Linked DNA regions of Homo sapiens: regions 2, 3 and 4 are each reported to be linked to region 1. The links are microRNA targets in miRTarBase. Many come from high-throughput screens and were not tested one by one. Region 1 holds a microRNA gene; each other region holds the end of a gene's coding sequence.

Region 1 (7,958 bases):
AGCTTCCAATGTTGTTCAAAAAAGAAACATATCTCCAGTGAAAAGGTCCTGGTAATGCTGTGAGGGCTGACTATTGGCTATTGAAACAACTAGAAATTTCCATAAAAGGACTTGTAAGCCACCTTCACTGAACCTTAAATTGCTATTTATCGGACTTAAAATATAAAGCTTCAGAATGACAAAAGGAGCTACGACATCAGTGCTGATCTCAGTAGGCCCCTCTAGAATCAGATTCGGTTTCTATATTTGTGTATTGTCCGCTGTCAACTAAGCATTGCTACCTCTTCATCTGCATTCCACAGACATTACAAACTGTCTTCTAAAATCCCCTCTGCCATAGGGTTCCAGGTTAGAGTTGGCCGATGAAAGGCACTCTTGTTGGGTGTGGAAGCTGGAAGAGAAGCCATTATCCTCTGAAGATTGTTGCAAAGTGTGGGCAGGAACTTTCCAGAGAGCTCCTGGAAACCCCTTTCTCCACTGCTGTAGACTGAGACAGTGGTGCAGACTTGCTGGGATTCCTAAGAATTATAGCCACTTCCCCACTAGTTCTTCAGAAGCACGCTGTTGGCTGTTTCTGATGCAGGATCTCTGGTGGCAGATTCCCTGACTTCTGTAGGTGACATCCCTGACCTTCACTCCCACAGCTCTCCCAACTACTATACAAAGTCTACATCCTACGTCAAACCCTTCATTCTGGGAAAATGACGGGTGGTTGCTTTTGCTTTCCTGCCCAAATCCTAACTCACACAACACTGCTAACAGAAAGCAGTGATACAGGACAGGATAATAAAAGGCAAGGGTGGTGAAGGTGATGGAAAAGTTATGCTGAATTTTTCTATAAGCTGTTTTGTTATTTAAAATTTCTTATTCAATATTGTTCTTATCAAAGCCCATTTCTGTGATGTTTAATCAGATTCAAGTAATCAGTTAAAACAAATAGATGGCAACTGATAATATGCTAAACAGAATGAATACTAAATTTGGAGATGGCCTAATGTTGGTGTTTCAAGTTCAGGTGAAGGATTCAATTGGGATTCAGACAAATGTAGACCAACCCTTGAAAACGGGAATGAGGCAGTGTGCATTACAATGAGATCTATTATCTCTCCATCTTCACATATTTACTGACAGCCATTCCTTTGTAAAATCTATCACCTTCTGATCAAAAACATTTAGTTCAATTCAAAATGCTACGATGCCTAAAACGTAGTGCTTTAGTAAGTCTATGATCAGATTTTCCAGGAGCCAGACCCTTCTTTTATGCCTCCTGCAGTTTTGCTTGCACAGAAAGTGCCAGATACACATTCATTAGACTAAGCTTAAGTGTAAACCCTAAGTACCTGCAAGACTAAAAGAATAATAGTTTCATGAGAAGCGAGGTATTAAACATGAAGAGACAAAAATGAATTGAAGTGGTTGGGTCAAATGTTGGGAGATACAAAGAAAGGTGAGAAAAGATGTTTCAAATGTATAGAAAATGGTAAGTCTCTCTGCTGTCAAAGAATAACAGCAACAGGCGATGGGCTCAAAGGCATGGTTAGTTGTCCCACAGTCACAGTTTCTAGATAGTAACATCCCGTTTTTAATTCCTTACCCACTCCTAAAAATCCTCTTAAGGACTTGCTCCCTTTCTGGCACTCTCTCCTACAGGCATCTCAGCTGACACGTATTTCCAGCCTCTATCTGTACGGAATGTAGTGGAGACCACTGCTCTAGAGAACTCATGATTGCAAAGATGAGGTGGGGCTGGTGCGGGGGAGGGGACAGTCAAAGAAAAAGTAGTGCAGAAAGGACAATGAGAAAACAAATGTAGAAGTGTGCAAATTTGGGTTTATAAAAAAGTGACTTTTGGAAGAACAGAAAAGCCACCATACCTGAAGGTTTTCCTCCCTCTCGGGCATTGATCCGAAATGCTGAAGAATTTGGCTTCGAAATCTGTCTCTTAAATTCTGAAACCAGCTGCAGGCTTGAGAGTAAACCAAATCATGAAGCTCTCTGAGATTCTTAATCTCATCTTCATTCTCAACCTAGAAATACAATAGTCAGTAAGACTTCTGTGTCTAATCCCCCGTCCATATGCCATATGCCAACCGACACAAATGGAAAAAGGGATCAGAAGAACAGGGCAATACCTGTTTCAGTGCTGACGTCCCAGAGAGTATTATTCCTATGCTTTAATACACATTTCTGTCTCATATAGGGCTGACCAGACTAAAGAAAGACAACAAGGCCTGACCTATGCCTAACCTTGCTGACTTAGCAGTGCAATATTGCAGAACCCTACAACAGCCCTCAAGTGGGAAGAGTAAGATTGAGAGTGAGTTCTGGTTCAGAGGTCTAATTTGGAATTCCATTTGTCTTTATGGATCAATGGTTTTTGAAAGCAGTGGAACAAAAAAGTGGATGATAGTTGCTACAAAAAAAGAAAAGATAAGTAGTTAGGGTGTAGATGACATGACAGAAAGTAGTAACAGGAGGAGTCCAGGCACAGTTACATCTTTTACTAGGGAACTGGGTCAAAACACAAAAACAAACAAAAAGCTACAACAAATAAGTTAGCATATAAAGCCAGTATGTCAGAGAGTCAATTACACAATGATGAGCTTCTGCTGGCAAGGCCCAAGGCTATGGCTACCTCTGGAACCCCTCAGTGTATTCTTTAGACTACTGGGTCACCAAACTGCAAATGTAAAATTAATTGCATCAGGCTTCCAGCCTGAGATAGAAGAGTAGTCTCAGAGAACACAGGTGGGAAGATCTAAGTTTAACTCATCCATCTTATACTGATTTCTTTAATGCACACTTACATCCCACTTGCTACTTGCCAGGTCGTGCTCTGTCTCATATGCACAAACTCATCTGAAAAAATACCAGGCCTGACTCAGCCTTTCATACTTCAAGGATGACTCATTTAAAAACAACAAAGGGACTCTGAAAACATTTCGAAATATAAAAATAAGACTACAGCACACCAGAGACAAAAAAGCAAACTTTTTACTTTTGAAAGATTTGAAATGAAAACTAAAGTTTAAAGAGCATCTGTTTTTTGCATAACAATGTGAATGTACTTAATGCCACTGTGTGCACTCAAAGATGGTTAAAATGGTAAATTCTATGTATATTTTACCACAATAAAAATAAACTTTTAAAAAAGGTAGAGGAGCCACACAATTGAAGAATTTTGGTCCTGAAATGACTATACATGATTCAGGCCCCTGCTAACATACATTGATAGGAGCAAGAAACAAACTTATGCCTTGTTAAATCTTTTTTTTTTTTTTTTTTAAAGCATCTGCTCTGCACCCTCACAAAATTCAAGAAAACAAATGACAGGCTCTGGTAAACAAGGAATGATAACAATTATAAGCGTCAGTGATGAAAAACGGAGCTGGCCAAAAAGCAGGCAGAGACGCTTTTAAAGTCTCTGCCTGCTTTTTGGCCAGCTCCATTTTAAAAGCAAGCTTTTAAAGTCAAGGAACTTTACTGTGATAATTTTAACAGAACTTAAAATTTCATTAGAAGTCACAGAAAACAGAATTATTATAAGAAGAGGAAAATTTGCCATATAAAACAAATTTGAGAAGGTTTTCCAGAATGGACAAGAAAATCATTATATAGATGAAGACATGATGAGAAAAGATTACTAGACATTCCGAGGACCAAAGAGGACTCGTTTATAAATATCATATCTGTAATACTTTTAGAATGTGATTCTATTGCCTACATGTTTGTAAGTATTAATACATATAGTCATGTAATTTAGCCATATACTCAAGTGATTTTGTCATCAAATCCAATAAGTGAAGACATAAATTTACACAAAACTGAAATATGGTTATTAACTTTACAAAGAAGAACCTTTAGCAAGTGATTCCATTAACCAAGTATGCCTAAGGCACAGATTCTATCAATCAACTCAAAATTTCAACTCACACAATACTTTCGGCCAACTGCACAAGACAAAGTACCCCCATAGCATTTTTATAATAAGATAGGACTGCCAACGTCAGACTAATCAGGTTTATCAACAGAGAGCCAAATGGCATAGTGATAAAGCTCAAAGTCTGAGTCAGACAGTTTGCTTTAATCATTTTTGTTACATTATCTATAGGCTCTCAGGCAAATTAATTAACACCTCTGAATTGTACTTTCCTCATCTACTATTTCATAGAGTTGTGAAAATTCTATGAGTTAATGTTTGTGAAAATACCTAATGCCAATATCCAATAAATGCTGACGAAATGAAGGGCCTAAACAGATCAATGAATAAGAGAAGGGATAAGATCTATGTTTTTATAATGCCTTTCCAAAAGAAATTGCCTTCAATTTGGTATTTGTAGCATCATAAGTCACTTTTCCGGTTCCTAAACTAACTGCAGTAGGTAAACTGGGTATTGCAAACATCAAAAGGGCCACATTAACCCTATTCTAGAAAGACATCACAAAAACCCTACCCTGTTAAGATATCACCAACATGTACACTGGCAGTGCTTTCTATGTCTGCCCCAGGGTCTTCACACAGCATTCAACTCTATTTTATCATTAAGGTTATCTTAGGCACAAGAACAATCTTAATATATAAAACAATTCTTATAAGATTTGATGTGTTTACATTTACATCAAATTTCAATCTACTAATTCCATCGGCTTCAACTACTAATACATTCAATAAAACAGGGCAGAAATGTAAACCTTTCAAAACTTAGATGGGTTGGAAGTTCAACTTATTCAACCACTATTGTTAAGTACCTATCACGTGTATACACACATGCACATGTGTACATATACACATACATTCTAGGCACTGGGCTGGTTGTTAAGCCTGCAGAAATAAAGAGAATCTATGTTCTAGTCTTCCAAGTTCTCTTAGAATGTGCAACAGTTTCAGAGCAAGATACGAAAAAGGTAACTTGGAGCACATTCTCATCACAGTGGTAAGGCTGTCTGATAAGAACTGGTTCATGCACCTAGAAAATAGCCTGCATGCCTGTACCAATCCCTGGAACAGGATATACGAAAGTATGCTGGCAAAGCACATTTTAAAATACCTTAACATCTTCCAGATATTCAATGTCGGCAGTGCAATATCCATCTTTCATTCCTCTTTTTAAAACCCTAAACCGCTTTCCTCCAACTGTATCAACCACAGACCTTCCGTCCGGTAAGAAATGCACGTTTCTAATTTGTAACATACAACCATAATCTGCAAAACTAAAAGAAAACCTTGATTAGTAACAAAGTTGAAACATAAACATGCAAGTTCTCATCCATATTGAGAGGTCTAACATAAATACAAATATTTAGGTTCACAAAAAGCATACCTATTTTGTGTATCACTGACACACATGCCAAACTGTTTGGTTCCAGTCTGTATACTTCTTCGAATCATCAATCTGTATCTTGGCTCAAATACATGGAGAGGGCAAGGCACAGTGGGGTAGGCCATAGTGCAAACAAATATTGGAACATTCTTGGTCAAGCTAAGGGAAAAACAGTTTAATTATTAGAATTCATACAAGAAAAATATTACCGAACACATACAAAAAATGAGTGAGGTTTATAACAGTAATGAACTAATGTAAAGCAAAAAAAGAATTAGTTCTAAATAAGGTGGTTTTTATTCTTGGCAAGAACAAGAATCAGCACCCCGTTCACTAAGCTCACACTGATGAAATATTAATACTGAAAATCTGCTGTGATCCTCTTATTTATAAGAGTAAACTGAATTTTAAGACACCAGATTATCTTACAGAGCTAAGTATGTTTATGAATCAAGAGAATTTATTATAAGTAATATTTTATATTAAAATCTGTTTTAAATATTTATAACATGACAATAAATACCTTTTATCCCAAACACTCATAGTTACTCTTAGATAACAAGAAAAAGTGAACTCCCACAACAAAGAGCAAATACTTAAAAATTCTCAGCCATTATTTTCAAACGCAAGGATAAGAAAACATATTTTGATGAGATAACATTTTTTCCAAGTAATTAAAATGATATAACATTTTTCATTGCCAGATTGGTAGAAAGAAAGAGAAGGATAAAGGCAATGCCCAGTTCTGTCTGAGGTATGGGAAAAATGGCAGCATGGGGGCACTCTGAAACAGCACAGGCACGCTAAAGAACATGGCTACAGACAGCAGAAACCTTACGTTGTTGGCAGGAAATGTTCATGTTCTTGGAACCAACCAGCTTATTTTCAGACATAAGCAGGCAAGTGCTATATGAATGTTCACTGTAGCAATGTGGATAGTAACCAAATTGTAGAATCATAAAGAGGAGACTAGTAAGATCAATTATGGTACATCCATAAAACGGAATACTATGTTTCCATTAAAAGATGATGTGTATGAACTGAATTAGAAGAAATGCTTATATTAATGAGAGGAGCAGGTTTTAGATACTGATCATGAATAACATGATCCCATCTTTGTTTAAAGCCTATTTATACATACTACATTCAAGTTTGGAAATATGTATGCCAAAATGCCAATAGTTGATTCCCTTTGAGTTGCAGATTATGGCTTTTTTTAAAAGCTCATTTGTATTTTTGAGTTTTTTTCAAAATGACCATCAATTACTTATATAAACATAAGGTGAAACATGTTTAAAATATGTGTTTTAAGAAACAGCCCCATTAGTAAGCAGCTGGACACCCTGTCGCTTCTCTTCTCTCCAATGCGCAGCTCTCTGTGTGTCTCCCTCCTCTGTCCTTTGAGTCTACCACTCTTCCGTGGGCTGGCTGGTTGTGTCACCATGTTTAAATTTTCAAAAGCAGAAATGCAGTTTTCTTAAATCTAGATGCTTCAGCACTGATCAGAAAGGTTCATAATTGTCATATCATTTTATAAACCACACAATAAAATATCAATTCTGTGAGAAGACAAATCAATATCTATTTCTATAAAGAGTGGAAATCTTTCTTCTGTGGAAGGCACCTGGCTCACTGAAGACATCTGATGGGCACATGTTGATAAAGGAGTCTACAAGCACAGCTTTTCTTAGAAAGTGACATACAAAATGTTCAATTTATATTTTGAAAATCAATGGAAACAAAAAGTTGTTAAATAAAACAGCATATACAAATTATAATTTTGTTTTTTAGTGTGTTCAATTAAAAGAGAGTAAAAGAAATAAAGAAATTAAAAACCCGTTAATAAAATTTAAAGAGACCCAAGTGACTGCACAAGAGGGAAAGACATTTAGGGAAAAGAAAGGGAGAAAAACGGGAAAGAAAAACAGAAAAGGGACAACAAGCAATGCCTGGCCCTGCCTACCCAGCTCCATCAGCTGCTGTGTTCTTTGCAGAGTGGCCTGCCTTACCGAATCCCAAAGTTGCCTCCGAGATTTTCACCCTCCCGACACCAACTCAGTTGTGCTCCCAGTCAGTATCTTCATTAATTGAGGATTTGGCCCTGAACACCCCTCTTCCAATTTCAATCTCAGATCTCAAAGTTTGGAAAGCCCCCTTCCGGGCCTCCATGTGACAGAAAATCCCCTGCTAATCTAGGCTACTGACCCTCAACCTTCCTCTTGCCCTACCACGACACATGAGAGCCGCCATCACCACCAATGTCACTGTCACCAGCGCCCCCTCTCTATTTCCCATTCCACTGCCTGATGGCACTGTAGGAAATTCCTCCCCCGCCCAAAATACTGCTTCAGCCCACAGAGCTGAGTCAATAACTCCCTATAAAACATCCGGATGTTACCAAGTGAACTTTTATAAGATTCTGTCTGTTGAGGACCACGGAAACAGACCAATACTTCTTGACTAGACTGAGATGAACTAAAGACAGGATCCAGCTTGCGGTGAGGTTTTTCCTTACTATTAAAGGGTAGTAGTTCATAATTTTTTTTATGAGAAGAAACTTACTGTGAGAGTTCAGCAGTTTCTTCATCATATATTTTTTTTCTCTCAGACAGTTCATCAGGCAGATACTTCACTATT
Region 2 (8,080 bases), not on the chromosome of region 1:
AAGGTTCAGGTTTATACAGTGACTGCTTTGCGGGAAACCGTTAGGGAAGAATCACTTCTGAGTGTCAGGGATCGATAGTGAGAGGTCGTAAAGGCCACAGATGCAGGCGAAGTGGGTGGCATGATAATCCCCGCCAAGCAGCTCCACCTTCAGATTCTTGTTGCTAATTGGAAGCAGGTTCAGCACCAGCTGTGGCATATTCAAGGGCTTCCTCCGGCAGCCAGGAAAACCAGGCCCTGCAGGTGGAGGCTGGGGGCGGCTGTGAAAACGCCACTCTGTGGTTCCCAGATTTGTGTTTACCACAGTGACTTCCAGATCCCATCCATTCATCCTCACAACAGCGATGAGGGTTTTTTTTTTTTTTTTTTTTTGAGACAGAGTCTCGCTCTGTCGCCCCGGCTAGAGTGCAGTGGCACGATCCCAGCTCACAGGTTCAAGCCATTCTCCTGCCTCAGTCTCCCAAGTAGCTGAGATTACAAGCGACACCACCGCGCCTGACTAATTTTTGTATTTTTAGTAGAGACGGGGTTTCGCCATGTTGGCCAGGCTGGTCTCGAACTCCTGACCTCAGGTGATCTGCCTGCCTTGGCCTCCCACAGTGCTGGGATTCCAGGCGTGCGCCGGCACAGCCAGCCTGTTGTTGTTGTTTTTTTTAACCTGTCTTCCCAACATTAAAAGCCTGTTGAAGAAAAAGGGTATGTTTTCCACATTGAATTCCTAATTGGGAAAAAAAATACTAAAAAAAGAGAAAAGGGTATGTTTGGGACCAGCACATACAGCAGATGAAAACCAGCTTCTTTTCCAGAGCGAGGTGACTTCCTGCTCTTGCTTTTCGCCCCTTGGTACGTCCTTGAAATCAATGGCCATCACTTACCAGAACGCAGGGAGCGAGTGCTGTGTTGGCATCGGCCAAGCTTCAAATAGTAATTTTCAGCCAGACTTTGTTTTTTCCTGTTGCCTAATTAAAGACACTGAAAAGCTGTTCTCCCCTCCTGCTGCCTTGTTCTAGGACAGCAAACTGAATTCAGGAACAATACAGACGGAGCCGGATGTGGCCCAGGAGCAGATGCGCGGGACCTAACACGGTGTTGCCCCGTGCAGCTTAGGGAGGAAATGCAATGTATGAGAGGACACACGTCTGGGAACCCTGCACACTGGGAAGCGTAGTACCAGCAGGGCCCTGAGCGAGGGCACACGCTGTTGACGGTGCCGTTGCCCTGGGCAGGCCCATGTGTTGTGCGCGCTGTGGGTGGCTGTGCACACAGGCCCGCAGGTTCAGGAGTAGCACTGAGCAGGGGGCTGTGAGCTCAAAGGATCTTTCCAGTTTGCCCCGAAGCAGCTGAATGAGAGAAGTGGGCACTTGGCTACACCCCTCACTGCTGCCGCCAGCAGACGAGGGCACACGCCCTGCTTCCTCCAGGCTGCGGCTGCGCAAGGGAAAATTCTTTGGGAACAAATAGCTGTTGACCAGTAGCTTCATTAGTGCTGGGAATATAACATGAGGGCGTTCTAGGTACACCTCGTATGTGAGCGCATGAAGACAGGTAAGTATGCCTACTGCCATTTTTCAAGGCGTGTGTCTCACCCCCTTGGTGCTTTGGGACACTTCCCAAGCCCGAGAATGTGTCAGGAGGTTTGGGTGGAACTGTTGGGTTTCTGTTAAACGATACACAACTCGTGAAAGACTCTGTCCCCAGGTCTGTAGGCCAGTGTGCAATCCAGAGGCAGAGACGGCCTCCAGTCCGGATTCCGGGTGCTTATGCCTCACTCACATGAGGAAGTCACCCACAGGTGCTAGAATGACGACACAGTAGGAGACGTGATCTCAGGGCCAAAAAATCCATCTCTCGAATGTCAGAGGACATGGAGGTCCTACTTGGCAGGCTTGCAGTGAGTACGCCCCGCCCTCGGCATCTCAGAGGAGCAGGGAAGGGAGGCTGAGGCCGGAGCTTGCTGCAGCCGTCGGCTCCTCCCTCCCCAGCCTTGTTCCCTGTTCCCTTCCTGCATTTCTTTTTTTTTTTTTTAAAGACAAGAGTTTCACTTTTGTCACCCAGGCTGGAGTGCAGTGGCACGATCTGACTCACTGCAACCTCCGCCTCCCACATTCAAGCAAGTCTCCTGTCTCAGCCTCCCAAGTAGCTGGGACTACAGGCACACGCCACCACGCCGGGCTAATGTTTGTATTTTTAGTAGAGACAGGGTGTCGCCATGTTTGCCAGGCTGATCTCAAACTCCTGACCTCGTGATCCGCCCGCCTTGGCCTCCCAAAGTGCTGGGATTACAGGCGTGAGCCACCGCACGCGGCCCCCTTCGTGCCTTTTGAGGAAGCAGCAGCCTTGGTCATGGCCCATAAGAACTCAGACTTCAACTGAAAAAAGTGGCTCTTCCCTACACAACAGTCCAGGAAGCTGGATATTGGGAGTGTGGTGAGACGAGAACTGACCCATCCATAAGCTATTCTGGATTCTCTGTCACTCTCAGCCGTGGAGCATCAAGCAGGCTTCCTGAAGCTTCGGGAGGACCTGGCTTCAGCTGCTGTCTCAGCTGCTCGAATGTAACATGGTTCCGTAGTTGAGACTTCAGTCATCCTGAGCAATAAACCAGCTCATCCACTAACTTGGCTCCTAGCTTATTACATGTGTGCACTCCCTGCACTGATGAAAACAGGAAACATGGCGGGCGCAGGGGCTCACGCCTGGCATCCCAGCACTTTCGAGGCTGAAGCAGGAGGATAGCTTGAGGCCGGGAGTTCAAGACTAGCCTAGGCAACGTGGCAAAACCCCATCTAAAAAAAAAAAAAGAAAACAGAGGAAACACAATCATGGAATTTTTAAGGTGGCAACATGTTTTCTTAAAAACAGGTGAGCCTGTCAGCTCTGCTCCTGAGGGAGAGGTAGCTTGGTCAAGAGGGCAGCCCCAGGCCCTGCAGTACAGCTGGTGATTTTCAGCCCAGAGCCCTGGAACCTTGGATGGGGAGTGTGTGTGAGGGCTGTGCGTGGTAGAATGGCAAAAGTGGGGCTAAGTGTGGCCCAGCGTGGCTGGTGCGGACATCTGGGGTTGCTGTCAACCCCGGGGCAAGCAGCGGAAGGTCCCAGGTGAACGGCAGGTCCCCAGAGGTCTGTTTCTCCTCTGGACCTTAATGACCAGGCTCCCAGCCAGGAGCCAGCGGCTGGGGCGAGGGGAGAGTGATTTCAACGCTCTCTGCCCCGAAGCAGGAACCGAAGGGCCAGCCGGTGGGCACCCAGCGTGAGCTCCAGGCACATCTGGACACCTATGCTTTGCCCAGAGTTGCTTTTCTCAGAGGCTGCAGTCACAGGGAAAAGTTGTGACGGTCTTTCCTGCTATTTCCCGTTCGTCCTCTTTCGCCTCCGTTTTTGTTCCCATGTCTTCCTGTACTCCGGGTTCTTTCTTCTGAGGTGGTCTGGGACAATCTGGATGGGTCTCCGGCTTTAACACCCCGGAGCACAGACAGCTTGCAAAATGCTCTCTGGTGGAGGGAGACTTCACTCCATCCTCTTTTCCTCCCTTTTCAACGATTTAAATCCAGGAAAAAATCGCAGCCCCGCCCTTCAGCACTGGGGTGGTTTTGGAGGTGTCGCCTGCCACCTCCTGGCAGACGCCACTGTGACAGCTACGCCACCACACAAAGGCGCGGGAGCGTGGCCAACATCCTGACAATGTTTGTCTCTCGGCCAAGCAGTGTTTTCCTTGTCAAATGTGGCTCGTTTTTTATTCCTGTTTACTGGGGAAATGGTGACAGAACAAATGTCAGACTCAAAACTGAGAATTCAAGGTAGTGATTTTCCAGAATCACTCAGCAAATAACAACCATCTGTTCCCCTGTATTCACTGAAGAAAGGACAATTTGCCTCCCTCCTGCACCCTCCCTCGTCCCTACTAAATTATACCCATGAATATATAAAGTGAACTGAAGGCACCGTGGCATATAAGCCACGGACTCTAAAGCAAAGGGATGTAAATTTCTTTTCCCTCTCACACCCAGGATAAAATGGGCTTAGAATTACTTGTCAGTGTTGGCCGGGCACTGTGGCTCACGCCTGTAATCCCAGCACTTTGGGAGGCCGAGGCGGGTGGATCACGAGGTCAGGAGATCAAGACCATCCTGGCTAACATGGTGAAACCCCGTCTCTACTAAAAATACAAAAAATTAGCCGGGCGCAGTGGCTCACGCCTGTAATCCCAGCACTTTGGGAGGCCAAGGCGGCGGATCACAAGGTCAGGAGATCGAGACCGTCCTGGCTAACACGGTGAAATCCTTTCTTCACTAAAAAAACACACAAAATTAGCCAGGCTTGGTGGCAGGTGCTACTCGGGAGGCTGAGGCAGGAGAATGGCGGGAACCCGGGAGGCAGAGCTTGCAGTGAGCCGAGATCGCGCCACTGCACTCCAGCCTGGGCGACAGAGTGAGATTCCGTCTCAAAAAAAAAAAAAAAAATTACTTTCCAGTGTTTACATTGCTTTTTCTAAACAAGGACAAGGTAATACATGGTTTATTCTTTCACTGTTATTTTGTAACGAGTCAGTGGGAGTATAACCCGGGGAACAAATCCCACGAGATTGGTTTTAGGCTGGAAAGATGTGAGCTTCCTTTTCGTGACTCCTGCTGCTTGAGCACTGTCCTGAGGTGTCTGGGGAGACTGGAGTGGGATGGATTTGCATTCTCCAGGCCGCCTTTCCGCCTGTCCTCTCTGCACCAGCCTTTGGGAGCAGTGTTGGGGGGACACTTGCATTGCCCATTCATGTGGAGCTCTGGGCAGGCCCAGACCACAGTGGGGCTCCAGAGCAGATGTTCAAATATTCAGATGTCAGCCTGGGAGGACACTGTCCCTGCAAACACCCCTCCCCCAGGGGAGAGCAATCCCAACCTGCCCCTTGGCACGTGAATCATGCTTGGTCATTTGGTTTTACTAGGAAGAGGGAGTTTGACTAGGAAGTTGGGGGAGTAGAAGAGAAAGAAGGTTTCTCCTGGGCACACCAGCAACACACTTGACCTCCCTGGAGTGAGCAGTGTCCAAACCATTACGGGAGCCGCTGGGCAGAGGGGTGTGGGGAAACGCTTCCTGTGTTGTCTTCAACTCCAACTCTGTGTGGCTGCAAAAGCAGTGCTTTTTTTTTTTTTTTTGAGACGGAGTCTCGCTCTGTCGCCCAGGCTGGCGTGCAGTGGCGCGATCTCGGCTCACTGCAAGCTCCGCCTCCCGGGTTCACGCCATTCTCCTGCCTCAGCCTCCCGAGTAGCACCTGCCACCACGCCTGGCTAATTTTGTGTATTTTTTTAGTGAAGACAGGATTTCACCGTGTTAGCCAGGACGGTCTCGATCTCCTGACCTTGTGATCCGCCGCCTTGGCCTCCCAAAGTGCTGGGATTACAGGCGTGAGCCACTGCGCCCGGCCTCCCGAGGTGCTGGGATTACAGGCGTGAGCCACTGCGCCCGGCCTCCCGAGGTGCTGGGATTACAGGCGTGAGCCACCGCACCTGGCCAGCAGTGCTTAAGAGTCCCATATTCCACCCACCCACCCCATCCCCACAGTTCCTTATAGATACATTGATGACCATCAGCACTTGCCCTGACACCCTGGCTACATCCTGGTTTGGCCGCTAGTAGGTAAAGATCCAGCTTGCCCTGGGCCCTGGAGGGGCTGAGAGAACAGAAGGGTCCTGCCGCTGTATTGTGGGCGTTCATTCTCAGAACCTTGGCCTCTAAACATTGGGGGATGAGACGTAAGTAGGACTAACACAGGGAACCAGGAAACAGTGACACTTTCCTGACACATGCAGGGTGAGGCTGCCGATTTTGAAATTCAGTTTTCCGCATAGACTTCCGTCTCTGCAAAGTCCTCAAAAAGGTATCTGCAGAGGTGCCAAGAAGGTCTGACATGGCCTGTTGAATTAAGCCGTTTCTATGGATACATAAACAGTGGCTCAGTGAAGCCCTGAACAATCTCAAAGACAGACCATCTGAGCCCAGAGCAGAGCTGCTGGATGCCATGAGCGTAGCCCTCAGCTTCCTGGTGTTCCCTTAGCCACGTCCTCGTTACCAGGCCAAACGTGACAGGTACTGTGACACACCAACGACACAAAACAACTTACTAACGTAATCTGCTGCTCATAGTTTATTTTCCACCAACCAGTGATCAGCTGTGAGTGATGTGGCTGTGACCTATAGCTGGTGCTTGGCGATTACAAACACCCACCAGCTGGTGGAGCAGGCGCCTCCCTGCCAGGATGATGCTTCAGGAACTTTCTGGGCACAAAGTGCTTCTTGGTGGACAATTTTTAAAAACACACAGAGCCACGTGGGTCACCTATTGTCACCAAGAGAAAAAAGAACCTCAAAATCAGTGACGCGACAGGAAGAATTCGGACCTGTTCTTTCTGAGGAAGTTCTTATTTTTCCTGTAACTGTATGACGGCATCACACCTTCCTCCTGAACGTGGGGGCCATAGTCACTGACTCCGCCAGCCTCCCACCAGTGTGCTGGTGTAGGAGGAGCTGCAGACGTCCTCAAGCAGAAGTCACTTCTGCGTCCTCAGTGGTAACTCCTGTCCCTGCTCAAGTCCTCCGCCCTCCCCCGCAGCTGTCTTTTCCCTTCGAAAAGCAGGATGCTTGCCGCCATGGCCGAGTTGAGGCTGTCCACACCAGGCACAACGGGGATCAGCAGCCTCTTGCCACCAGTGCTCTCGGCCAGCTGCAGGGACTCCAGGCTCACGCCGTAGGTCTCCCCGCCAATCACCACAGCTGCCGGCGCCTCTGTCCAGTCCGAGTCGTAACTCTGAACCTCAACATGAGGCAGCCAATCTTGACTGGCTCCGGTTTCTACATCTTCCTCTTCCTCATACTTGTGAAACTTCATCACTCGTTGATCACACACCCAGCCATGGTCACTAGCTTTATTAGACATCTCAGCCTGGGCATAAAGGCCACAGTTGTCAGCCACATAGACCCGAGTGTCAGGGGGCAGGTAATTGGGCACGGTTTCCCATTCCAGATTATTGATAATGGGCATCCGGAAATGTGCGCCCATACCCGCCCGGAGCACTTTGGGCTCCCAGGCATCCACACAGCCTGGAAAATAAAAAGGAAACAATCAAGATGTTACAAATCTTCCCAGACCAGGGGACTGTGGAGTAAGTCTGATCAATTTTGGATCAGGAGATAAACCAGTTCTTCTATGATAGCTTTCTTGAGGGATGGGACCTTCTGCCTCTCTCTGACAGCATCCAGCACAGCGACTATAGGAGTCACTCCTGCTAGTGCTGAAGATATTTTATGCATCCCTTCAACATCTCCCATTCACACGTGCCAGACACTGCGCAGAAGATGCAAAGATAATGAAAGTCCCCAACCCCAAGGAACGCACAGTGTAGTGGGGTGGTATTAAACAGATGGCTACAGTATCAGTAACTGATGTAAAAGAAGCACCCACACAGTCATAGAAAACCCACGGACAAAGCAGGGCGATGAGGAAAACCATCTAAAAGACCACCACACTGAGATAAAGGCCCAGGCAGAGGACAGAGCTAGGAGAGGAAGCGGGAGAGTGGCGCAGCCTAAGGACTGCAAGCATGGTGAGCCGGCCAATCAGCGGTGGCGCTGTGGCGGCACAGGAGGTGAGCCAGCCAATCAGCCGGTGGGGGTGTGGTGGCACAGTTGAGGTGGCCAATCAGCGGGTGGGGGGGGGGTGTGGTGGCACAGGAGGTGAGCTGGCCAATCAGCGGGTGGGGGTGTGGTGGCACAGGTGAGCCTGCCAATCACTGGTGGTGCTGTGGCGGCACAGGGGGTGAGCCGGCCAATCAGCGGTGGCGCTGTGGCGGCACAGGAGGTGAGCCAGCCAATCAGCCGGTGGGGGTGTGGTGGCACAGTTGAGGTGGCCAATCAGCGGGTGGGGGGGTGTGGTGGCACAGGAGGTGAGCTGGCCAATCAGCGGGTGGGGGTGTGGTGGCACAGGTGAGCCTGCCAATCACTGGTGGTGCTGTGGCGGCACAGGGGGTGAGCCGGCCAATCAGCGGTGGCGCTGTGGCGGCACAGGAGGTGAGCCAGCCAATCAGCGGGTGGGGGTG
Region 3 (8,080 bases), not on the chromosome of region 1:
GAAACCAGTGCGTCGCCACTATTATTGGTATCCAGTAATTATTAATGTCAAACGGAAAAATAGCAACGCGGGATATTTTATTTTAGAAGTCACCACGGTCATGGAAAAAACACGGGCTCTGGAGTCAGACCCATGTATAACAATCTTTGTACAGTTAAGACTCAGTTCTATTATCTATAAAATGGGCCTTAATAATAGTACTACCTTATAGAGCTATTAGGATCAAGAGAATATTTAATCAATGATGGGTTGTGTTTGGTTGAGTGATGTGAAATTGCCAATGTTTTGGCCGTTCTGGGTCTACATCATTCCCCTTAATGGTACAGTACTTGCATACTGCTGCGGTTTCCTGTCAGGGGGAGGACTGGATTATGATCCATGGGAAGGGGAAATGGAAGAACGGTGGAAATGAGTTGCCCATGACCACACTGAGAAGAGGGAAAGAGGGACCAAGACACAAGTCTCTTGACTTCAGTCCAGCCCATTTCCCATGACCAAGATTCCTCTGATTACATGAAGGTGGGTTCTCAAAAAACCCGTAATAAAAGGACAAGGTCTTCCATGTCCACTTCACCAGAAATGTTTTATTCTTACTTTTTAGGAACTGCGGCCCCCAACTGTTATGCATATTGAATAAAGGGACAGAACAGGGATGAGGTGCCCTCCAATGCATACTTTGCAAATGTAAGAACTTTCAACATTTCCTAAGAAATCCTTTTCAACTGACAATTATTTTTTAAAGTTTTCATAATGTTCAATAATTTTATAATTGTTAAGTTTCATTAATTTGCTCCAAGGTGGTGAGGAACATGGGATGTGGCATCTGAATTGCCTGAGTCCAAATCGTGGACCCAATGCTTCCTGGCTGTGTAATTTGGACAAGTGACTGAACCTTCTGAGCCTCGGTTTCTCTCATCTGTAAACTGGGGACAATAATGGTGGTTGTGAGAAGTACAGTATGATGTGCCTGGCAGAGGGAGAGAGCAGTTGTGGGTTTTGTTGTTGTTTTTAACGAGTCCCTGATAGCCACATATCCCGTTAGGGAGATGAGCCAGCTATTGAGGGTTCTGTGAGAACTCATAGCAACACCACCCTAATCAGAGGAAAGGGGAAGGAGAAAGGGAAACAAGATCCTTGGGCTGATCAGAGGCAGAGGTGGCAATGGCACAACACCTATTGGGGCCCAAGGTGGGCAGGGGCCACACCACGAAGGCTGTGGTTGGGAATCAAGTTTAGCCCATAAAGCAGTAGGCAATCAAATGATCAAATTTATGCTTTCCTCTATTCAAGCCATTCTCCCTTATGCCTGAGATCTCTCTCTGGAATTCCAAACCGATCTAGATCTTTCCAAGCATCACAATGGCCATTTCAGTGGCAGACATTTCTGGGGTTCAAATATCTTGTTATCTATCCTTTATTAGCTTTGTTTATACTGTGATTGGGGGAAAGGGGACGTGTCGGTCTTTACATGATTAAAATTACTTAAAATGACTTTTATACATCAGTATGAATGTTATATTGTTTTAAATAATCAGCAGAAAAATCTGACTGGGGATGTTTTATTTTTCTGTAACTTCCATTTGTTGTTGTTTTGATGCACTTTCCTTCTCCTATTAATTCCATAAAGGAGGCAGTATTTCCAGGCTTCACAGAGCAGAAGATGGAGGCTCACAGACTCACCTGAGGTTACAGAAGTAGTAAATGGTAGCAGGCCTTTTTGCTCCAAAGCATGTGCTCTTTCAGTATCACTTCCTGGGGGTGAGGGTTCAGACCATGTTAGGATCAGGGAATGGCCTGGGTTTCTGTGGCTTGCTGCAGACAGCTCCCAAGTGGCCCTCAAGGACTGCCTGGACATGGAAAGGCCAGGAGCATATGACCCCATGTGAAAGACCCATCTGCACCCTTCCTGGAGCCTAATGCAGAGACAGGGATGTAAAACTGCTTTTTCTCTGACATGAGCCTTTGTTCTGTACATAATAACCAAGAACCAGAAGTTGCTCCTATGCTCTCAAAGCAGTGATTTGCAATTGCATGACAGAGCCCCCTGGGTTCCACACCACCTCTGTGGGGAGAGGGCAGGCACTCACACTTTTAAAATGCCCCTTAGATGATTTCAATTTGCAGTCGGGGCTGAGAACCAGTGTCCTGAACTCACTCAGTTTATTTGGGAGACTCCCAAAATGTGTATTTGCAGAGCCCCCTTTCGGGGAGAGTGCTGTTGGATGCCCCTGGAAGATTATGGCAGCTCTCTAAGGAACATAGCCATAGTCCACGCCCACCACTCTTGGTCACAAGGGCAGAAGAAGGGAGGAGGGGTCTGCTGGGAGGTCAGGACTTCTTTGAGATGATCTGTCCAGTTGGGTGCAGCACAGCCACCATGGGCTCACCCAGAGTGCTCAGGGGATACAGCACTGGCTGGGCCATGGAGAGACACTGTGTAAAAGGGAGCTGTCAGCCCCCTTGTACTTCCAGAGCCTGAAGAGTTTCAGAATCCAGCCTGGGGGCGGTGGGGTGACATCTCCCTTCCTGTTGGCTGCAGGGTGAGCCGATATCACTCCACTCATGGTGGTTCTCTTTACAGCTGACTTATCCTAACTCAGAACTGCTGACACTTTACACTTTGTAAACCTATGGTTTTTACATTATTCCTTGTGATTCTTTTTTTCCTAATAACTCGTTCACTAGGAAAAATCCCAGAGGCTCTCAGCTCTATTCTGAGAAATAGGTCAAACAACTGAAACCCTATGAGTAAAGCAGAGAGGCGTGTCAAACCAGATTGCCAAGACAGCTCAGCCGTTTTCCCTGTGAGCTCCTGCTCCATCCCCCCACCTCTGTTCTCCTTCTGGTGAGGCACAAGGGCTGGGTTTGGTGGGTGAGGTCCCCAGCTATAATTACTGACATCAGCTTTGCGGTCCCAAGGAATCCACTCCCCTGTTATCAGAGCTATGGGCAATTAGAAATGCCCAGTGCCACACCAGAACCCTGGGCTAAAAGTCAGAACCTGAAGAAGCCAAACTGGTGCTTAGGATAGAGGGGGTGCGGACTCAAGAAAGAGAAGACCGAGGGATGGGCTCATGAGCTCCAGCCCCTGAGACTGCCACTCCCTGGCTCCCAGAAACTGCTAGATCTAGATATAATGGGCTCAGATGAGGAGACAATGAAAATGTGCTAAGGACCAAGAAGGGCACAGAAAGGCCTCTGAACCCTTGGGTGGGCACAAATGGAGGTGCGACTGGCACCAGAGGCTGTTCTGAGAGATGTGCCCGCCAGTCAACCAGGGCCAGAGACAGGCAGAAGGGGCCCCCAGGCAGACAGCAGCATGGAAGAAACCATGGCCTCCAAAGTGTGTATGTGGCGGGGCGAGGGTGTGGTTGACGAAATGACAGGAGACCAGGACCAAGGTCATCTTGGCTCTTGTACAGCCCTGACTCATCAGTGCTCATAAAGCTGCACTCTGGTGAAATTTTGTTGGAGTCTTAGAAGAAATCAGGATAGGTTTATGGCCAAATTATTTTATTAGTGACTCAGAAAGAGGATTTTCCCTTTTACTGGGCTAATACACCACACCTGAGGAGTTGGGGTAGTTACCAGATCAGGTTTATATTGTATAAACTGCAGACCACCACCAGTTCTGCTAGGTGCTGTTTCAGTAAATTAAGATAGTATCGATGAGAAGATGCTGTTTTACATACCATTAAGAAGGAAAACTGGCTGCAAATTATCTTAAGGTACCATTGATTGATTAAAAGATGAATCCTGATCTGACATGTTAAAATGTTTGAGGCTGATGCAGAAGGCAGTTTCCTCTCCACAAACCTCATGGGTGTGCAGAATGGTGTAGACACAGAGATGGGTGCCTCACTTACCTCATGCACAGACTGGCTTTTCCACCACAGGGCAGGCACTGTATAAGCACCTTCCATTCCTACACAGGCGCTAGTAGGGGGAACTAAGGCTTGGAGAAGCCAAGTAACTTTGCTAAAGGGTCATATAATTAGTAGGAAGTAAGGCTGAGGTTCAAAACCAGGCCGGACATCCAATGTGCTGAAGCAAGCTACACCTCATCTCACAAGAGAGGCGAAGACACGCTTGTTCCTTGTCCCAAGCACTCTTCAGGCCCATTTCCTCCAAGATGGTACTTGCTTGGTTTGACACTTTCATCAAACAGGACCCCTTGTGAGCACACGGCCATGCTCTGGTGAGCAGCCTGCCGCCCTGTCCACCTTTCTGGGTGGCTCTCTCTCTACTAAGCTTGGCTCCAAGGACATGACCGTCCAGTAGCCCCATGGCAAATTCTGGGGCTTCTCAGACCTGAAGGTGAGCATTTTGAGCTCCAGATATGAAAGGCAAGTCCTGGGTGTTGTGTTCATTGGAATCCTAAGAGCAGCACTGACTGGAGGGCTAAAGGCAAGGCCCATCCACAGTTCACAGACTTGAAACATCAACCCTTCAAAAAGGGTGGGAGGAGGCTGGGTACGGTGGCTCACTCCTGTAATCCCAGCACTTTGGGAGGCTGAGGCAGGTGGATCACTTGAGGCCAGAAGTGTGAGACCAGCCTGGCCAACGTGGTGAAACCCTGTCTGTACTAAAAATACAAAAATTATTTGTATTTTTGTGATGGTGGGCGCCTGTAGTCCCAGCTACTTGGGAGGCTGAGAATCACTGGAACCCAGGAGGTGGAGGTTGCAGTGAGATCGCGCCACTGCATTCCAGCCCAGGCAACAGAGCAGGAAAATGAAAAAGGGAAAGGTTTTCCTAAACTTATTACTAAGAGACCAGGTTTGCAGAGAACCAGGCTCCTGGAACGCAGGAGGCAACAGTTTGGATGTCCCGGGAGCAGCAGGTGGAGCATCTGGGGAATCCAGAAATCCACAGCAGGCAGCCTGCCAGGCATCTCCAGAAGAGGGACCAGGAAGCCTTTTGTTCAAGAAAGGATTCCAGTCTAGAAGGCTGGTGAGCTCCCGAGAGCTAAAGGCTCCCTTGCTGTGTCTAGTGAAAGGAGGACAAGAAACATGGTAGGAGCTCTTGGGGAAGGGCCTGGTTTCTCTGAAGTCAAGAAACACAAAGAGAAAGAGGCTCCAAGGTCTAAGCAAGGCCCAGAGGATCAAGCAGAGCTTCCTAGAGCTGGTGAAAGGGCTCAGGTGGGGTTCTGAGGCCCAGTGAGGTGACACTGGCCTCTGGGAAGGGCCAGCACAGGCAAGGACTCCAGCGGGAAAACTGACAGGGCAGAACTACCAAGTCCTTGGCCAAGCCTCTGGTTCGAATGGTGGCAAGTGGGCTGTGGATGAGGTCGGGGAGGATGTAAGAGGAGGCGCTGGCACTGACATGGCTGCCCAGGGGTGAGCCCAGAAGCCATGGGAGTCTGGAGAGGATGAGAGGAAGAGATGCAGGGCTGGGCGTGACAGCACCACCCTTCATCCGCTCCAGCTCTGCCCATCCAGGTGTAAGCTCTGGGGCAGGGGATTACCTGCTCTAGGCTTCCTTTTCCTCAACTGTGAAATGGGGTGACAGTGGAAAGACCTCAGAGTTACTGTGAAGGTATTTAGTTTTAATCCCCAGTAACAGCCTGAAGAATGGCTCCTGCCTTAAAGAGAGGGAACAGGATGGCTTTTTTAAGTGGTGCATCTCTGTGCTATCTACCATTCCAGATACTGCCTGTACCGTACACCCTCCTCAGACAGATGCTGCTATCCTCTTTGAGAAACAGGAGAATTAAGGCACAGAGAGGCAGAACCTGCCCATTACCATCACTTGTGCACTCATTCATTTAACAGACATTTATTAAGCGTCTACAATGTGCCAGGCCCTGGGGACACAGAGCTGGAGAATGTACAGTCCCTGCCCTCAAGGAGCTCACAGTCTGGGGGGACAGACATGTAAACACATGAGTTACAACGCGCTGCGTGAAGTGTGTGGCAGAGGTATAACAAAGTGCTGTGGGGCACAACAGAGCGACCAGTGAACTCTTCCTGGGCAGGGGTCAGGGAAGCCTTCACAGATCAGTCAATAAATACGGTGCCATGGGAGTGCCTTGCACACCACGGGCACTCACATCTTGAATGCTGGTCCACTGGAGGCCCTTGGGTTGGGCGGGAGCAAGGCCTACTTCTGCTTCCTCAGGACAACTTCCCCACCTCTGTCCTGGGACCACCTGCCCGCCTGGGCCTGCAGTGACTAAGGACGCTGCTCCCACTCCAGGGGCCAGTGACAGAGAGCAGCTATACAGAGGGCCCACCCCGCAGGATCCTTGACAGGAGCTGAGACAGAACAAACTGCTGCTTGTCTCCCTACCCTGGGGGCTGTGATATTCTTGGTAACATCTCTGAGCTGGTCTGTGAGGTCACTTCCTCTTTTAACACTGTTGAGGAGACTCCAAACCCTGTCTTTTCCTCGTCTTCTCATGTCGATTGGGCACCAGCCATTCTCAGGCACCAGAGCACAGCCCCACACGGGTGCCCCATCAGACAGGGCTGCCCACAGCAGCCTCCTACACCTGAACTGGGTTTCTCTGCACACTCACAGCCGTCTCACCAGCTCAATGAGCTGCTGGATGTTTTTGTTTTGGTTCGACAAGCCGTTCCTGATGTTTTCGAGTAGGCATCTCTTCAATTCAAATATGGCTTCACTGTAGGCCAAGCTCACTGCGGCCATGGGAGGTGCTCCGTGCCACAGGCCTGGGATGTGCCAGATGTGCTGCTTCTCAGGGTCGCAGAAGGCCAGGCCTGCCAGTGCCCGGAAGCCGTCGCCCTGTTTCTCCATCTGGGCTGCAGCCCTGCTCAGGTCACCAGGTGGATCCAGGAGCTGTCTCTTGTCTCTGGGCCTAGGGCCGGGAACAGATACATCATGAAGGTTCTGGTATACAAACTGGTAGTTGGGCATGTGCCCCGTTTTTTCTAACCTCAGAAATGCATGCAGAATAGCTGCTGGAATGTCCTTGGTTTCAGCTAGACTGATCACGGTGACATTGCTCAGTCCCATGAGCAGAGTGGCCAAGGAAGCCTCCAGCTCAAATCTGTCCCCAGCTGACGTCAAGGCCCCACCTATCAAGCCCCCGGAGTCTATCACCAGGATGTGGTCACAGCCCAGGTCCTGGCTGAAGCCCTCAGCCACTGTGATGAGCTGCATGAAGGCCCCTCGAGGACCGCAGCTCTTCCCTGTGGCAAACCGCAGCCCAAACATGGTGTTGAGGAGTGTGGACTTGCCCGTGCCTGGCACCCCGACGGTTGACAGAACCACCAGCCTTGACCGTCTCTCCAGTCGGACGTGCAGCTCCTTCAGGAGCCCTGTGACCCAGCGGACGGGCATGCTCAGCGTGCTCCCATCGATTAGCTCCAGAGGCAGCCCTGTCAGCAGCAGCTCCGAGGCCAAGCCTGGGAAGTGGGCAAAACGCCTCTGGCCTGCCGGCAGCCTCCCTGCCTCCACAAGACAGCTCTCAGCCTCATAAAACTGTCCCATCTCCCGCAAGAAGTGTTCCACCCCTAGGGGCTCAGGCCAGAGCGGCTCCCCCACGTCTGTGGTGCCCCCATGCTTTGGTCTCAGGGTGAGAAGCGTCTCCGGAGGCTGTCTCAGTCGCGGCTGGGCCACCCGTGCCAGGCCCCACTCCATCCACCTCAGGAAGTACTGCTTCTCACTCAAGGAGGGGCTGCTGATCCCCGAGATGAACTCCTGCACCCCCGAGGAGGGATCATGGCCGTTCTGCTGCATTCGAAGTTCTAGCAGCCGCCGCCTCAGCTCAGCCCTGTGCTTCTCAGGGGGGTCCACGGCCCACTGGAGCTGGCAGAACTCCTTCTCCACTTGGGCTGCCTTTCTCCAGGGGTCCCCCTGCAGCCTCAGCTCGTCCCTTCTGTAGGCATCCGAGTCTTTGATTTTCCTGGTAATCCTCTCCATCCGGTCTTTCGCTTTCTGACACTCCTCACAGTCCTCGTCGACCTTTAGGCCCAGTTTGCGGGCTGCGTGCGCCATGTCCTCCACAGATACCCGCCTGCAGGGTGCCCGCAGCACATTCCCAACGATGGCCCGGATCCTCTTCACGAAGCTGTCGCTGTCAGTGCTGCTGACCTTTACCAGGACATGTGAGTGG
Region 4 (7,000 bases), not on the chromosome of region 1:
ATACATTAAAGCCAACAAATTGTTTCATTTTATTACTTTCAGTTGGCAGTGGCTGCTGAAATATTTTTTTTGTGTGTGTATATGTATTTTTTGCCTTAACGCCATATACTTTATCTAATGACTTGAGAAAGATATTTCAATGCATAGGTGGGACTTTTTGCTAGTTAACTGGCTTCAGAACCATGTTTTAGTTAGCTAATGTTTTACCGCTTGGTAATATAAATAGCCACTTAGAATTCAAGTTTTCTAAGTTTCCAATTTCATATTTTCCAAAAATCAACACTTATTCTTTTAAAGACATTTTACTTCCTCCAAACATTTGAAATAGCAGTTATGACAAAAACATGATTATCTCAATAGATGCAGAAAAGGCCTTCGATAAAATTAACACCCTTTCATGCTAAAAACACTCAAAAAACTAGATATGATGGAACATATCTCAAAATAATAAGAGCTATTTATGACAAAACCACAGCCAATATCATACTGAATGGGCAAAAGCTGCAAGCATTCCCTTTGAAAACCGGCACAAGACAAGGATGCCCTCTCTCACCACTCCTATGTACTGGAAGTTCTGGCCAGGACAATCAGGCAAGAGAAAGAAAGCGTATTCAAACAGGAAGAGAGGAAGTCAAATTATCTCTGTTTGCAGATGACATAATTGTATATTTAGAAAACCCCATCATCTCAGCCCAAAAACTCCTTAAGCTGATAAGCAACTTCAGCAAAGTCTCAGGATACAAAATTAATGTGCAAAAATCACAAGCATTCCTATACACCAATAATTGACAAACAGAGAGCCAAATCGTGAGTGAACTCCCATTCACAATTGCTACAAAGAGAATTAAATACCTAGGAATACAACTTACAAGGGACGTGAAGGACCTCTTCAAGAACTACAAACCACTGCTCAAGGAAATGAGAGAGGACAGAAACAAATGGAAAAAGCATTCCATGCTCATGGATAGGAAGAATTAATATTGTGAAATAGTCATACTGCCCAAAGTAATTTATAGATTCAATGCTATTCCCATCAAGCTACCATTGACTTTCTTCACAGAATTGGAAAAAACTACTTTAAATTTCATATGGAACCAAAAAAAAAAGAGCCCATATAGCCAAGGCAATCCTAAGCAAAAAGAACGAACTATACTACAAGGCTCAGTAACCAAAACAGCATGGTACTGGTACCAAAACAGAGCTATAGACCAATGGAACAGAACACAGCCCTCAGAAATAACGCCACACTTCTACAACCATCTGATCTTTGACAAACCTGACAAAAACAAGCAATGGGGAAAGGATTCCCTATTTAATAAATGATGTTGGGAAAACAGGCTAGCCACATGTAGAAAACTGAAACTGGGACCCCTTCCTTACACCTTATATAAAAATTAAGTTGATAGATTAAAGACTTAAATGTAAGGTCTGAAACCATAAAAAACCTAGAAGAAAACCTAGGCAACACCATTCAGGACATAGGCATGGGCAAAGACTTCATGACTAGAACACCAAAAGCAATGGCAATAAAAGCCAAAACAGATAAATGGGATCTAATTAAAGAGCTTCTGCATGGCAAAAGAAACTATGATCAGAGTGAACAGGCAACCTACAGAATGGGAGAAACTTTTTGCAATCTATCCATCTGACAAAGGGCTAATATCCAGAATCTACAAGGAACTTAAATTTACAAGAAAAAAATCCCATTAAAAGTGGGCAAAGGATATGAACAGACACTTCTCAAAAGAAGACATTTAGGTGGCCAACAAAGATATGAAAAAAAGCTCATCATCAGTGGTCATTAGAGAAATGCAAATCAAAAACACAATGAGATACCATGTCACATCAGTTAGAATGGCGATCATTAAAAAGTGAGGAAACAACAGATGCTGGAGAGGATGTGGAGAAATAGGAATGCTTTTACACTGTTAGTGGGAGTGTAAATTTGTTCAACCATTGTGGAAGACAGTGTGGCGATTCCTCAAGGATCTAGAAATAGAAATACCATTTGACCCAGCAATCCCGTTACTGGGTATATACCTAAAGGATTATAAATAATTTTACTATAAAGACACATGCACACGTATGTTTATTGGAGCACTATTCACAATAGGAAACACTTGGAACCAACCAAAATGCCCATCAATGTTAGACTGGATAAAGAAACGGGCACAAACACACCATGGAATACTATGCAGCCATAAAAAAGGATGCGTTCATGTCCTTTGCAGGGACAGGGATGAAGCCGGAAACCATTATTCTCAGCAAACTAACAGGAACAGAAAACCAAACACCACATGTTGTCACTCGTAAGTGGGAGTTGAACAATGAGAACATATGGACACAGGGAGGGGAACATCAACAATGGGGCCTGTCGGCGGGGTAGGGGGCAAGGGGAAGGACAACATTAGAAGAAATAGCTAATGTAGATGACAGGTTGATGGGTGCAGCAAACCACCATGGCACATGTATACCTATGTAACAAACCTGCATGTTCTGCACATGTATTGCAGAACTTGAAGTATTAAAAAAAAAAAACAGCAGTTGCTTAATGAAGATTGTCTATCAGTTATTAACACAGACCTTTTTGGGGATGATTGCTAACTTTCAGGACCAAAGGCCACTAGGTGATGCACTCAAATGACTACTTAATGCAATCAAGTGGTTGAAAGATGCATTTCTGGAGTCCATACTGATGTAGACCAGTTTGGCGTTGAGACTTTGGCTGTATTTTTGGCTAGTTTCCATTCACAAAATATACCTAGCTGTTTACAAGGGGACTCAGTGACAGTACAAGAATCTAAGTGTAAATTCAGTGTTAAACAGAAAAATGACTCAAGCCAGTGAAACACATTTTTGTGTATGATTAGTAATTTATACTCAGCTTGGTCATTGGCCTAAATTTTGTAATTCTTACTGAAAAGAAACTGTATTAGTCTGTTTTGCATTGCAATGAAGGAATACCTGGGACTGGTTACCTTATAAAGAAAACGTTTATTTGACTTGCAGTTCTGCAGGCTGTAAAAACATGGCACCAGCATCTGCTCAGCTTCTGGTGAGGTCTCAGGGAGCTTTTACTCATGGCAGAAGGCACGGGGGGAGAAGGCATGTCACACAGAGAAGGAGCGAGAAAGAGAGGAGGTGGTGGTGCCAAGTTCCTTTTAACAACCAGCTCTTGCAGGAATAAACACAGCAGGAACTCATTACCACTGGGGAAGGCACAAAGCCATTTATGAGGGATCAGCCCCCATCACCCAAACACCTCCCACCAGGCCCCATATCCAACACTGGGGATCATATTTCAACATGAGATTTGGAGGGGACAAATACTCAAACCATATTACAAACTTCTTCACTAGAAGAATTTGGGTATATGTAAGTAAGTTTTCAGTATATGTGTAAAGTAGAATATTATCAGAAAGGTTATTTACTTTTCATCTTCATTATCAATTTTCTATAGGTATCATAAAAATTTAAAATGCATTTTGTTAATTTAATCTTTTATTATTTCTTAACAGTCACAATGGAATAAATGTGCCTACTTTAAGACATCTATCTGGTTTTGTTGGCAGATTTAAGGACTAACACTAGACTAAATATTACACAAATATTCTATTCAAATGACTTAAAAGTGCTACCCTTTTACTAAAAATTTTATCGTACTAAACATCTTTGAAATGTGTGTCCCATAGGAAATGTGTTTTTTTGATAACCGTACTTCTAAAAAAATTCCCACTTTGAGCACTGTCAGAAAACAGAGCAAATTTAAAGAAAATTTTGAGAATATAAAATTACATAAACATTTCATTTTACTTTTCCTTTATCTTAATCATATACCTTTAAATAAAAAAGCTATGAAAGACCTAAATAAAATTTGAGAAATCAGAATAGACAAACATCATTAATGCCCAAAACATAATTTATTTATTAGAGATGGGGTCTTGCTATGTTGCCCAGGCTGGATTCAAAATCCTGAGCCCAAGCAATCCCTCCTGCCTCAGCCTCTCAAGTAGATGGGACAATAGGCGCACACCACCATACCTGACTGTAAGCCACATACTTTAAATGGACCTAATTTCCAAGCCTGGCTGCCTGATAGAATGTGCTTTGGTCAGCTAGAATTGATACCATGTTAGAGGGTCAGCTGCACACAAAAATGGTGTTGCTGAGAGAAATGGCACATTATACCTGGTACTCCTTAGAGGTGCTCTATCTACTGTATCAATATAGCCATTAAAAGCTCAATCTGCCAGCTGTTTTTGAAAGACCCAATAATACTGTTATGACTATATAAGATAACCTTGATGTATGTCACTTTATGATACGTGTTTCTTAACATGACTCCCAGGGGGCCCTGGCTTAGAGCTGATTCCAAAGGCACACAGCTTAGGTCAAATTATAGGACACATAATATTTACTATTTTATTTACTGCCTAAAATGTTTCTCAACAACTAACAAGTACAGGAAACATTTATAGGTAGTAATGTAAGTACCTTATGAGCTCAATGACAAAACAGTGAATTACAGACAGTTGGAAGATGGGGACCATGTCTTAGATTCCTTTTGAACACTCCTCAGTGTCCAGTGTGGTGATATGCACATAACCAGTATATTTTAGTAAGTATTTACCCAAGTAAGACTTCTTTAGGCATTCCATTTTGGGATTCTTGTAGAAAGAAGCCAATTTTGTAGAACTCCTAGGCTTTAAACATTCGAGAATGAAAGGCTCTTGCCATTACTGATCATAATTCAAAAAGCTGGTGTTAAGTGTGACAAGTGGTGACTGTTCCATATATGCCAACAGGCATACAGCAGAATCCAGACAGAGTATATAGTAGCGAAAAAGATGGGAGAATATGAAGAACAAAGTCTATTTTAACATTAATTATGGCTATAATAACCCTTATGAGGAAATACTGGTGAGCAGGATAAAGTGATATTGAAAAGAAAAAAAGGAAAACTCCTCAAAACACAATAAAGCATATTCTAACAGGTTTTTGAAAAAGTTGCAAGCCTTTTAATTCATTGACCTCTTTTGACTGATTGGAATTTTTACCATTCTGTACACTCTGAATTATAACTAAACAACTACATGTTACTGACAAATTTGTGATTCTTTGAGTCTAAACAACACAGAAACTAGAAGATCCCTTTCCTAGATTTATATACTTGATTTTCTTATAAAAATAACTTCAGTTATTATGTCAATATTTATCTGAAAAAGGCAGCCCTCTGACAGTAAACTAGTAACTGGAATAACTACAGTATCATTATAAGCTACAGTAAAACAACCTGTAAAGTAATTTTTCCTATTTGAATAATAAATAGACTGGACAGGAGTGAAAAACCAAAACTACGAAAGAAAAACCCAATGTAAATAAAGGATACAGGTCAAAACAAAGTTCAGAAGGCAAATATGTAAATATTAGATGCCTCAAAAATCAACTATCAGTGGGAAAATTTCTATGAAAGCAATTTCAGAAAATACATGAACACATATATCTTTAAAATATAGAACTCTAAATACTTGATAACATATTTAGGATACTCTACAATGCCCAGTTAATTGCTATAATTTTTTTCCCTCAGGTTTTCCTGGATGATACGGCAAACTACAGAATTTGTGCACTTACTGTTGCTCAAATTTGTGTACTTACTGTGTGCACATATACTGCTGCACTGTTTCTCGGCTGTGAAAAATTAAAAGCATTTTTTCAACCTTTGAGAAGGAAAGAAAACAATGAAGAATCTCCTCATAATAATACAGCATAACAGGGTTTGTTTACTGTGCCACATCATGGGTGTTTTTAAAACGAAATATAAATATATGGTTAGGGATAGCATTTTTAGGAGAACAAGTGACCAAAAACTAAGTTACCTCTTTTCAGGTCAGCCAAAAAACGTGAAGGGAAAGTGGACTTTATACAACTTAGACATTTATGTAGATAGCACAGCAGACTCATGTTCAAGCCAGCCACCTGAAACATTATAAGTCCGTCGAGGGGGACAGCAATCTATGGTCCATGGACTGAATCCAGCCTACTTTTGTATGGCTCTGAGCTAAGAATCGTTTTAATATTTTTTAAAGGTTGTTAAAAGCAAATAACAAAGAATACATGATGACTCTATTCTTGTTCTCATGTGTGAACCATATATTATAGCCTGCAAAGTCTAAAATATTTATAAACCGGCCCTTTACAGAAAAAGTTTGCAGACCCTTCTTTTACACCAGTGCTGTAGATAATTCTGGCAGTACAACTGCAAGTCTAAGATAATGTTCATTCATTCCCATCATAAATGTAACATTCTAAATAGGTGTCTTCTGATGTCATCTGTCAGAATTTCTTTTAAACTTTTTCTTCATCTTCAACATTATCAAAGTTCATCCTATAATAATAATGTAAAGGCGATAGAGAAAGGAGAAAGTATGAGTTGGTAATGTTAAAAATAAGGTGAAATACCACAAACCAACATTTTACTTTTTCAGAAATACTCAATATTCTTATTTAATGGATCATGACATGAAATATACTTTGCCAAAATATAACAATAAAAAAGAAAAGAATATCCTAGTTCTTACCTGCTCACAGCAGATATTACTAACTATATAGGTTTACATAATTTCAAGCATATTGGGTATTCTCTTTAACTTAATTTCAGGTATGATATTTTAGATTATGACAATTTTTAAATTTCAAATATTTAATGAGATAAAAGTTACACCTTTCAAAATAAAATATCTTGAGAAAACTAATATAGCGAAACACTAGAAAAACATGTTTGTTCAGTGGAACCAAGAAAATACAGACTCATAACTCTTTCCTACCTTTCAGATTCGTAAAAAATATTCTTGAGGTAGGTTGTAAGGCTTTGTCTATTGGGGTCTGCAGTTTGAACTGGATTACAGTAGAACCTATTGTCTAATATGGTGCTATAAAGCCAGTCTTCTCTAGCCCTTTCCAGAGGCTGAGCTATTTTGTCCTCCTTTCGCCTCATAGG

Evidence for each region. Region 1 holds the annotated microRNA hsa-miR-3926 (UGGCCAAAAAGCAGGCAGAGA, at 3,422-3,442, opposite strand). A microRNA usually pairs through its seed, bases 2 to 8, with sites in the 3' UTR of a target mRNA and lowers its output. Matches are read on the target gene's strand: a 7mer-m8 pairs with bases 2 to 8, a 7mer-A1 pairs with bases 2 to 7 and ends in A, and an 8mer does both.
Region 2: the mRNA of MRM3 is a reported target of hsa-miR-3926. The part of its 3' UTR that is shown has no 7-base or 8-base seed match.
Region 3: miRTarBase lists URGCP as a target of hsa-miR-3926. The part of its 3' UTR that is shown has no 7-base or 8-base seed match.
Region 4: miRTarBase lists DNAJC10 as a target of hsa-miR-3926. Seed matches in the 3' UTR shown: 7mer-A1 at 1,760-1,766.

What each region holds. Positions count from the first base shown.
Region 1 is chr8:12,723,853-12,731,810 of GRCh38, forward strand. It overlaps MIR3926-1 (microRNA 3926-1), which reads right to left and starts at 3,452; the gene lies at 3,380-3,452. LONRF1 (LON peptidase N-terminal domain and ring finger 1) reads right to left here. Exons shown (of 12, transcript NM_152271.5): 8 at 7,884-7,958; 9 at 5,322-5,480; 10 at 5,049-5,211; 11 at 1,875-2,027. It overlaps MIR3926-2 (microRNA 3926-2), which reads left to right and starts at 3,385; the gene lies at 3,385-3,447. RefSeq lists an enhancer at 2,950-2,999.
Region 2 is chr17:790,539-798,618 of GRCh38, reverse strand. MRM3 (mitochondrial rRNA methyltransferase 3) reads right to left here. Exons shown (of 4, transcript NM_018146.4): 4 at 6,110-7,085. The coding sequence ends at 6,550. Among named protein-coding and RNA genes, the nearest start is that of MRM3, 12 kb to the right of the region's middle. RefSeq lists an enhancer at 7,456-7,750.
Region 3 is chr7:43,870,151-43,878,230 of GRCh38, forward strand. URGCP (upregulator of cell proliferation) reads right to left here. Exons shown (of 6, transcript NM_001077663.3): 6 at 5,763-8,080. The coding sequence ends at 6,517. All of the region lies in intron 4 of URGCP-MRPS24 (URGCP-MRPS24 readthrough), which reads right to left. It overlaps LOC124901620 (a long non-coding RNA gene), which reads left to right. Exons shown (of 2, transcript XR_007060296.1): 1 at 1-684; 2 at 798-1,492. Among named protein-coding and RNA genes, the nearest start is that of MRPS24, 4.7 kb to the left of the region's middle. RefSeq lists a silencer at 1,766-1,941.
Region 4 is chr2:182,776,509-182,783,508 of GRCh38, reverse strand. DNAJC10 (DnaJ heat shock protein family (Hsp40) member C10) reads right to left here. Exons shown (of 24, transcript NM_018981.4): 24 at 1-6,388. The coding sequence ends at 6,377. Among named protein-coding and RNA genes, the nearest start is that of DNAJC10, 64 kb to the right of the region's middle.